2 separate regions of the Homo sapiens genome follow, and region 1 is linked to region 2. Evidence: fine-mapped expression QTL. Tissue or cell type: cerebellum. Region 2 holds a variant in brackets; the other region holds the start of a gene. All regions are shown on one strand. Distances are from middle to middle.

Region 1 (5,232 bases), 70 kb after region 2:
TGCGATCCTGTCTCTTAAAAAAAAAAAAAAAAGAAAAAAAACTCTTTTTTACTAGGTCAGTTTGTCAATGCTGAAGTTGACCCTAAAGTGCCACAACATATAAAGATGAAGAGAATTCTTTCCTGCAATCTTCATAGTTTGTTTCCTCAATCAACAAAATTATGAAATATTTACCACATGTAAAGAACATTGTGCCAGCTACTTAAAGTATGGATTTTGCCTTCCTGAGACTTTTAAATCAGTGACTGAGGCAGTCATGTAAAGTATTACATAAATTACAGAGAAAAACAAAGTGGGAGTTAAGTAGCGGAACCAGTAGGTTTTAGAACACAAACTCTCTCTAATGAGGTTATATTTCTTAACAGAATTTTTAAATTATTATTCTGAGAATTCAAGAGAAAGCCTAACTGGGAAGAAGAGAAATAAACTGGACCTTAATGAGTACAACTTTTATAAACAAGAAAAGGGGATGAACCTCCTTAATGTTACAGGAACAGCTTGGTTATGATGTCACCAATTGTTTCAAAGAAGCATGACAACATGACAACCTAACCTCAAGAAGCCAAGGTGCTCCCTGAGGCCAACCACCTCTCCTCCATGAAGCATTCCTTAACGTAGAAATCCTGCTTAAATTCCCCCCAATCCATTCTGAATTAAGTGTTCTCATCTGTGTATCCCTCCCATAGCGTTTTCTCAGTACCTTTTGTAGCATTTTTCATACTCTAATAATCTGTAACTCGTATAATCTTCTCCTTTTAGACCACCCTCAAATATCTTACTTTCAGTCCTCAAAGCTTAGAACAGTACTCTAAGCACTAACTTAATGGTGGTTGAGGAAATGATAAACAACTATTAAAGAAATGAATGAATAATAAATAGGCCTATTCATGTACTTTATATTTGCAAAAATCTCTCTCAATCTAAAGTCATTTCTTAGGTGACAATGGTCCACATGCAATACCATCCACTGCAATATTTATTTAAAAGGGCCTCCATTCTAAAGTAACCACCAGAAAATTCACATGTTCTAGACGGACTGAGGTCACAGGTTCCAAATGGAGAACAGGGTGTTAGCTGCCCTCACTCTAGTTAAAGCATACTGATGTTCTATAATAATCTACTGGGGTGCCAATGACAATCACCAACATATTAAGCACTACATGTTCTGCACTTCGTAAAGCATAGTTCTTTATTCTTCTCCTGCATTAGTTCATTTTTGTTTATATTTTTAGTTTATGTGATGCTTGGTGATGCCTATAGTTATCTACTGCATGAAGAGGGATGTGCTCCTCCTAAAAATAATTCTAACTCCTGTTAACTCCTACAGAACATTCATACAGACATTTTTATTTCATTTTTTAATATCAAAAAGTCCTTTCCTATACACTCTTTCCTCTAGTACTGCCGTTTATTTACATTTCAAAATACATTTATATCAAGCATTACCAGCCAAGAACTAAGTATAAACTTCAAGATCCATCTGATCGACTCATTCTTTGGGCCTTTTTAACATGTGTCTTTTCTACCGTCTCCTAAGTTTCCACTTTGAAATTCGTTGAAAAATAAATTAGCGCAAACTGATTCTGCACTAGGTATGTATGGACATACACAAAAGGTTTACCATGTAAATCTAACACAGGTACACGTCCGTTGAATGTATTAAGTCAATCTGTGTTTTACAAATAAGCAACGTTTCATGGACATTTCTCAAAGGGGATCTGGGAGAGAGGAGCTAGAAGCAGGCACGTTAGTGCCCAACATGGGAGGAAACAATGGAAGAGGTGATAATGCTTACGTGCCTAAATATCACCGGATCTCAACCTCACCAATATCCTACCCATATGACGCTATGCAGCACCTCCCCCTCCCCAAATAAAATCAACCCCAGAGGGCAGAAATCATGACTTAAAAACGACGGCATTTGAAAGCACTAGAAGGCCTGTTATATTCCCCAACTGGGGCTCTCCCAATCCCGACAGGGCAACACTGACGAGAAACTCACAGATTGAAGTGGATGCCAACGGGCTAGGATCCCAGCTGTAGCCGGGAAAAGAACGTCCCGGCATGACCCTGCCACCTACCTTCATCGTAGTTATAGCCTCGAACATTCCGATGCCGGGCCATGACGGCGGAGAGGGCGTTTGCCACAGCCCCTTAACTCCTTCCAAAACACTCCGCTTAGATACTGATAAGGCGCCAACTGCAGCCTGGAGAACCCCTATGCGCCATCTTGGCTTCCCGCAGGCCTCTGCGCCGAGCGCCTGCGCAAGCGCGACGTCTTAGCTGTGCACCGCGCGACGGCAATGCCTCAGGGTCACTGTCCGCCTCCCTGAGGGCGCATGCGCACTGCTGTGCATGGCGGGACGAGGGGAGGGAGCGTTTGGGAGTGGCCCCACCCAAAGGTTGGGCGACGGAGGGGGATGGGGAAATCCGCCGCCTAGAATTGACTGGTTTGGACTAAATGTTGCAAGCGGGGAACCTTGAGCTACCTACGCCAGCGTTCTGGATTATTTTCCAAATTTGGTTCCTGATAATCTGAGAAAGCTATGCGCTCAGTAAGAGCAGGGACCTTGTTTTATCAAACTTTGATCTTTCATTAAGCACACAGTGGGCATTCAACAAACTTGTGTAAACTTGGAATCAGATTTAGCCCAGGCCGGTGCGGTGGCTCCTTCCTGTAATCCCAGCACTTTGGGAAGCCTAGGAGGGCGGATCGCTTGAACTCAGGTGTTCGAGACCAGCCTGAGCAACATAGCGAGGCTCCGTCTCTACAAAAAATACAAACACTAGCCGGCCCTGTGGTGCAGACCTGTAGTCCCAGCTACTGAAGAGGCTGAGGTGGGAGGATCCCCTGAGCCCAGGCGGTCGAGGCTGCAGTGAGCTGAGATCGGGCCTCTCCATTCCAGCCCGGGCGACAAAGTGAGTGAGACCTTATCTCAAAAAAAAAAAGAGTCCAAGCTTTAGAGAAGGAAATAAGGCTATTTTTAAACGGGTATATATTATTAAATTGAGACCCTGGCTATATTAGGTCACCCTGCATTCATATAATTTACGACTTCATGTATTCACTCCGTTCGGCATTACTATCCCTAGTAAACAGCGATTTGCCCTTAGCTATGTAAACGATTTTAGCTATATAGACGATATTTATCAGCATCATAAAGAAGGATTCACTGAACATTCATTGAAGACATAATTGTGTGTAACATTGCGAGTATTAAATATAGCTTTTTAGACATAGCACTGGCCTTAGGTGGTAATGCTGAATGTTGTTGATGCATGAATCTATAACCTGCTATTAAATGTCCTCATTTCTCAGAACATAAAGTTAATAATGCTATATAAGAAACCAACCTCATTATACTGAACACCACTTCAGTTTTAGCTTGTGTTTTTGAAATGATGATACTTCACATCAAAGGCAAATGTTGAGTTCTAGAGATAATTAAAAGCTTCCTCAGCTTTTTGCTATGCACAATAGAAAGAAATAAGAGTAATCCAAATTTAGTTTATATTTGTAAGTGGCTTGGAACGTAATTTATTCATGCATTTGAATGTGTTTGACTACAAAAATAGTTGTTTAATGTGGCTCCAAAATAAAAGTTTACAGAAAAATAGAGATAGTTGCTAATGTTACATGGCTTAAGTGTTTTTATTATTTTACACCCTTAGGTAATTTTTATTTTGCAGCCTGTTTCTTTGTAAAAAGGAGATAGAGACACTAACTCGCGAGCTGTGAATAATGTATCCGTATAAGAGGATTTATCACAGATCATAGTAGGTGCTTAAAAATATTGTGTTATTGGCCGGGCGCGGTGGCTGACTCCTGTGATCCCAACACTTTGGGAGGCTGAAGCAGGCGGATCATGAGGTCAAGAGATCAAGACCATTCTGGCCAACATGGTGAAACTCCCTGTCTACTAAAAATACAAAAATTAGCTAGGCATGGTGGCGCGTGCCTATAGTCCTAGCTACTCGGGAGGCTGAGGCAGGAGAATCGCTTGAACCCGGGAGGCAGAGGTTGCAGTGAGCTAAGATTGTGCCACTGCACTCCAGCCTGGAGACAGAGTGAGACTCTGCACCCCCCCAAAAAAATTGTGTTATTAAAATACAAATGGCAGCTTCCACTCCACTGTAATTGTCAATTACAAGCTTAACTACAACTCACTGAGGTATGAAGTGAATGAGTTATAGACCACATAAGCAAAGTACTACAGGAACAATGAATAAGAAAACGTTACTTCTGTCAGATAATATATAATTTGCCCTTAGGTCGTCAATAACGCACTCCTTTAAAACTCTAAATATTGCACAGCATCTACTGCATCTCAAACAGTAGAGCCTCAATGGCAAAGCCTTCACTGACTTCTTCAGAAAAAGTTAGGATTGTTCCACTCCCCTCAGGACTCTGTAAGGTGTGGGCAGGGCACCGTGGCTCACGCCTGTAATCCCAGCACTTTGGGACGCTGAGGCGGGTGGATCACCTGAGGTCAAGAGTTCCAGACCAGCCTGGCCACCATGGTGAAACCCCCATCTTCCACTAAAAATAAAAAAAAATTAGCTGTGCGTGGTGGTGGGTGACTGTAATCCCAGCTACTCGGGAGGCTGAGGCAGGAGAATCGCTTGAACCCAGGAGGCAGGAGTTGCAGTGAGCTGAGATCGTGCCACTGCACTCCAGCCTGGACAACAAGGGCAAAACTCCGACTCAAAAAATAAATGAATAAAACTCTGGTATTGTGTTTTGATGGAAAGTACTATGACTTCGGAGTACCACGAACCTGGATTTCAGTCCCAGTTTTGTTGCTGTTAACCACTTCAGATTTAATGTCTTCATCTGTAAAATCGAATATATGAAAATGTATGTCTTCTGTTTTGTGAAAAGTAAATGATATATGTAAAAACAGTAGGTGTTGCAGAATGGGTACTCAGTAAATGCCACTTCTCTACCCCTACTAATTTCAAAGCTTTATCTTTGTTTCTCCGGCACCCTAATGTCTGGCACTTTAAATGTTTGCTGAATGAATTAATGAGTAAAAGAAGAGAAATAAAATGACATTTCTCTTGCTATGGAATTGTTAATGTCATAAAAAACAATACAAATCATTTTATATTGATTTGTGAAAAAAATTATGAATGAAAGGATAACTACATTACTGAAAAAATGTTAACAACTTTATTGAGATATCATTGACAATAAACTGCACATAATGTGTAATTTTGATACATTTTGAC
Region 2 (5,232 bases):
ACAAGTTTCATTAGGAGGCATTGCCAGTAGTCGGTCACCAGTTTGGATATAACCAGCTTCTATTTTACCAGTTATGCAAAATCCAGATCCTTGATCTGCAAAACATACCAAAATCTTATGGTTCATACAGCAATGTTATCTGATGATTAATACCGTTAACTATACTTAGTTCTCAAGTAGTCATATAAAACTAGTAGTTCAATGGACATTAAATAATAATCATTTCAGAATTAACATCTCTACTAAATATGGCATACCACACTTTACTTTTTTTTTTTGCAAATAAAAATACTCATATTACCAAAGAAAGGTTCATTCCTTTCTCAAATATTTATTGAGAAATAATAAATACGTAGTACCAGATATTATACTAAACTCTGGGGATAAAAAAAAATAAAAATGTAAGTCCCTGCCCATAAAGATATTATACTAGTGAAGAGAAAGATGGAAACAATTACATTGTCCTGAGACAAATAATATGTAAAATATACAATAGAAACACAAAGGTGCACCAAAGAATCCATGATGGTGAGAATAGACATCTGGCACTCTGAAGAAGGAATAAGTGTTTATTAGGTAGCTTGTATGCATGAGTAGGGAGAAAAAGGAAGACACTGCTGCCCCAGGAAACTGTGTGGGCAAAGGCATAACCAAATGTGGGATGGGCTAAGAGTCATGTGTCACTTGTGGGGGCCATGGGGAGGGGACCATATAGAATAATGAAGAAAAGGTAAGACAGGAGGCAACAGAGATAGGCAAGGGAGAAATAATAAAGGGGTCTCATAAATCACGCTTAGGGTTTAAATTTCATCCTGCAGTTAAGTAATAGGAAGCCAGTAAATATTGTGACCGGAGAAGTAAGGTGATGGTATTTCTGTCTTAGAGTAGAGGCTGATACAAATGCACAAACTTACTACAGAAAGGGAATAAACTCAAGAATTCGGGAATAAGGAATAACAAGTTTGGAGTGGTAAGGAAAGTGAAGACTAATGACAGAAAGGGGAAAATGTGAGATGATGATGCATTAACTGTGAGATATGAAACTAAGGACAAGATCCATTTTAGGCTTGGTAAATCTGAAGTGTCTATGAGACACACACATGCAGAAGTTGCATTCCGGGGGGACCAATCACACCACATTCCATGAGAATGGTACCCCTAAAAGAACACTCTCCCAGGAGAGATGTCCAGTAGTGCTTAGACAAGTGTGTGGAGAATGAGTGAAAAGGTTTGGGTTGGAGATACAGATTTGGGAAGCATCAAGATGCAGAAGGTAGAGACACTCATGGATGTCAGTTCAAAAGGAACTTGAAGACTAAGAAGAGGACTGAGGCAGCAGAACACTGTTTAAAAGACAGAGAATGAGGAGCCCATAGAGAAGATATAGAGAGGTCAGAGATAGACAGGTCAGAGAAATAGACAGGTTAACAGGAGAAAGCAGGTCACAGAAACCAAGGGAGGAGTTTCAAGGTGGATGTGGCTACCAGCATCAGAACCAATGCCAAATTCAAGTAAGATAGAATTGAAAGTGTATATTGACTTTGGCAACCAAGAGGTCATTTCATGACCTCAGGAGGAACACACTCAGGAGAGCAGCGTAGGCGGAAGCCAGGAAGCAGCCTGAAGGGGGAACAGAAGGTGAGAAAGTACAGTCAGCAAACACTGTTAATCAAAGAAAAGTAACCACCTCTTGTATTCTTGATAAACAATGGGCATCTTGGAAACTATTAGCATATTTCCTCTATTACTAGAACACTGGAAGCTAATAATGATAATGATAAATTTTGATTTCATTGCATGATTTTTTCAAAGCACCTTCATTCATTCATTTTTTTATTCATGTGTTAAATGTATTATGTGCCAGGCACTGGGCTAGGGCCGCAGATATAGATAAAGAAGAGATAGTACTTGCCTTCAAGGAGTTCATAATCTAAGTGGGATAAACAGACAGCATAGAAAAAATTATAATGCTGCATGAAAGCACAATGACAGAGGATACAGAGAATACAGAGGGACGCGTCAGGGCATGTGCGCAGGTAAGCACGCC[G/A]GTTACCAATTTACTGCTGCTCAGTTCCACATTCACTCTGCATTGCTGGCTCTGTGACAATGGAGATTTAGAGGACAAATGACATCCTTACAGTTTTTATTATTGTAATAATAAATCTTATATCCTTTTATTTATTGAGTTTTTAAATTGTATTTCCACTTTATAGTCTTCTATATAGGATCTTGCCCTTATTAAGTTAGATATATTCTTAGGTATTTAATATATCATCTCTTCCAGCAAGCTCTGAACCTCTTCTACGTTGGTCCTTCCTCAGCCCTATCTATAAAGTTTCTGTATATCTTTTAGTTGCATTTTTATCATAGTTAATAATTCTTTATATTACATTTCCCATTTCACCTATGTATGGTATCTAACTCCTAACTGGACCCAGACTGTTACAGATGGGGAGGAAATGGACAAGTAAAGAGAAAGAACAATACAACAGGGAAGCACGGGTAGACATGTGGCAATAAACACATCCTGTGTGGTTAAGAAACAATAAACAATCCAGTTTGGTTGAAGGATTTGAAAACTAAAGGAATCTAATGGGAGAAAAAAAAACTATAAAGTTAGAAAGACAAAAGGCAAGGTTTTCTTATGCTTGAAAGATGAGAAATGGTGAGTAAACTGAAGGTTTTCCTGGACAGGGAAGCTAAGTGACTAAATCTGTGCATTTTAAGATTAATCTGACAGTGATCCTTACTTGGGCATGGAGAGGAGAGACTCTGAAGGCAATATACTGTCATAACTTAGTCCAGGAAAGGAGGTTAGGAGGGAATGGGGAAAAGGGGCTATACTGAAGAAGCACTACAAAGGTAGCACTTACCTTTGAAAACATCGGACACACATAATCTAAAAGGTTTGTCAATAGATCGCTGGGGAGGCTTAAAGGAATCTGGAAAAAAGAAATTGCAAAAGGCAAGGTTTAATTTAAAATTAAATTTTTGACTCACTTCAATAAACTCATTATAATCCCACTTCTCCTAGAAAATAACTACTTTTTATAATTACTAATAGCAACTTAACTGTCACTAATATACACATTGAGCATCCCAAATCCAAAATTCTGAAATCTGAAATGCTCCAAAATCTGAAACTTTTTGAGCACTGATATAATGCTCAAAGGAAATGCTCATTGGAGCATTTTGGATTTCAGATTTCTGAATTTGGGCTGTTCAACTAATAAGTATAATGTAAATATTCCAAAATCCAAAAAAAAAATTTCAGACCCCAAACACTTTGGGTCCCAAGCATTTCGGATAAGGGACATTCAACCAAGTAATAGTTGCAGCTTATAAAATGAATGTTAATCTCATTTAATTTTAACAACAGTCTATAAGATATGTAAACCAGGCACTAGCCTCATAAACTGAGGAAAACTGAGCACTAGACAGGTTAAGTATTGCACATGATGACAAAACAGGTAACTTAGTTCCTCCGACTACAAATCCTATGCTTTTTCATACGTGTGACTCTCTCCCATAAAGAACTCTAAATAATAATTAATACCAAGTTTATAATGCATTAAAGCTAGAATGGCAGTATACTTACCAATTTGTTCTAATAAACATAGTCCTTTATACCATTTTGTGAGTTCACTTGACTGAGATCTTGTGATTAGATTTTCACCACTGAGACCACTTGTAGGAATAAAACCTACATCACTCTCCTATTAAAAAGATTGACTTATGAAACTTAATACAACATTTTTTAAAACATTAAAAGATTCACCATTACCATAACTGCACCAAGTTTGCAAAAGCAACAATGTACTTTTTAAAACATAATAGAAATCACAGAACTACAGCCCCAAAGTTATCTGATCCAATAATTTTCAACTTTTTTGATTGGGAAACTTGCAAATTTATTCCAAAACATTCAAGCATTTGGTAACAAAGGCATACTACAGATGCTTGCTGGACAAATTCTTCCCTATCAGTTTCCACACTCCTCTATGACCTCCCTAAACCTATACCATCTAATTTAATAGGTAGGGTAAAAAAGTATTTTGCTTACATAAAAACCAACCCAAATATTAAACATATGCAATTTTCTAAGTTGAAATAATCCAAAGAATATATTATATATATGATACTCAAGAGAAAATAAAGCAAAGAGAATTAAATAAATTTAATAAGAATATCAAAGTATTAGTTTTTCCTCTCATACCAGTAAGATGACTTAAGGAAAGTAATAACAAATAAATCTAAAATGATCTTACCTTAAAACCTGCTTGCTTAAGAAAGTGCCCAAGTTTTCCAGTAATCTCTTGAAACCTTTCTTGTTGCCAATTAACCTGATAAAGATCCAATTTATTTTTAAAACTATCCTTCAGAACATGATACATAAAATTTAAATTTCTGCAATGAAATATAATCAAGACTATATAAAATATAAATATAAAATCTATTAAAATCAAAACATGGAATATCAGACCTTGCTAATAATATGATCTAAAAGTAATTCTTCCTCAAAATGCTCAAAGGCATTTTAATCAGGTTCAGCAAGTCTTAAAACGTACATTCCCTTACGCCCAGAAATTTCCATGGAATGAACCATTTTCTAAATACATATGCAGGAAATGTTCAAAAGTAAATGTTTAATAAATTACATCTTTAAAATAGACTAGAATACAGCCATAAAAACAATACCCTCTTTATCTAAGGATTATCAATTACTTGGAAACATGCATAAGACAAGAAAATTATTTTTTAAAAAGCAGATGATAAAACAGATAACCCAATTTTGTAAATAAAAAGATTCTTATCTATAAAAATAAATTGGATGAATATACAAAATGAAATGTTATAAGTTTCTGGGTGGGAAGGAGAATTGGTAATATAGGTTTATTTCTGATTTTTATGCTTTCATTCCACTATAATAAACATGTATTATTTTATAATTTAAAACAATTTTTAGGTTTTAAAAATTAATTTTGAAAATAAGAAGACATTTTCTTACTTAAAAATTACTAACACCTCATTTATTTAAGATGAGAACAGAGAATTTATTTTTAAAAACATGGCAACCGACTAATAAAATGTACACTAGTCACATCTAAGTCATCTATACAAGCAGAATAACATCTTAATTAGCATCTTAAACAAATCTCCACAAAGCCCTTAAATACCTGATCCATTTTATTAACTGCAACTGCAAGCTGCGTCACTCCCAGAGAACGGACC

What was found. PIP is the estimated chance that this variant, and not a neighbour inherited with it, causes the effect.
Region 1: it holds the start of HBS1L, and the variant in region 2 is fine-mapped to the expression of HBS1L in cerebellum (GTEx, PIP above 0.99).

The regions. Positions count from the first base shown.
Region 1 is chr6:135,052,568-135,057,799 of GRCh38, forward strand. HBS1L (HBS1 like translational GTPase) reads right to left here and starts at 2,255. Exons shown (of 18, transcript NM_006620.4): 1 at 2,082-2,255. The coding sequence starts at 2,124. It overlaps LOC124901405 (a long non-coding RNA gene), which reads left to right and starts at 2,326. Exons shown (of 2, transcript XR_007059775.1): 1 at 2,326-2,919. LOC124901406 (a long non-coding RNA gene) reads right to left here. Exons shown (of 2, transcript XR_007059776.1): 2 at 5,151-5,232. RefSeq lists an enhancer at 2,414-2,463.
Region 2 is chr6:134,982,468-134,987,699 of GRCh38, forward strand. HBS1L (HBS1 like translational GTPase) reads right to left here. Exons shown (of 18, transcript NM_006620.4): 9 at 5,178-5,232; 10 at 4,269-4,343; 11 at 3,599-3,716; 12 at 2,874-2,942; 13 at 1-95. Among named protein-coding and RNA genes, the nearest start is that of MIR3662, 5.7 kb to the left of the region's middle. The variant G/A (reference allele first, on the strand shown) is at 2,048.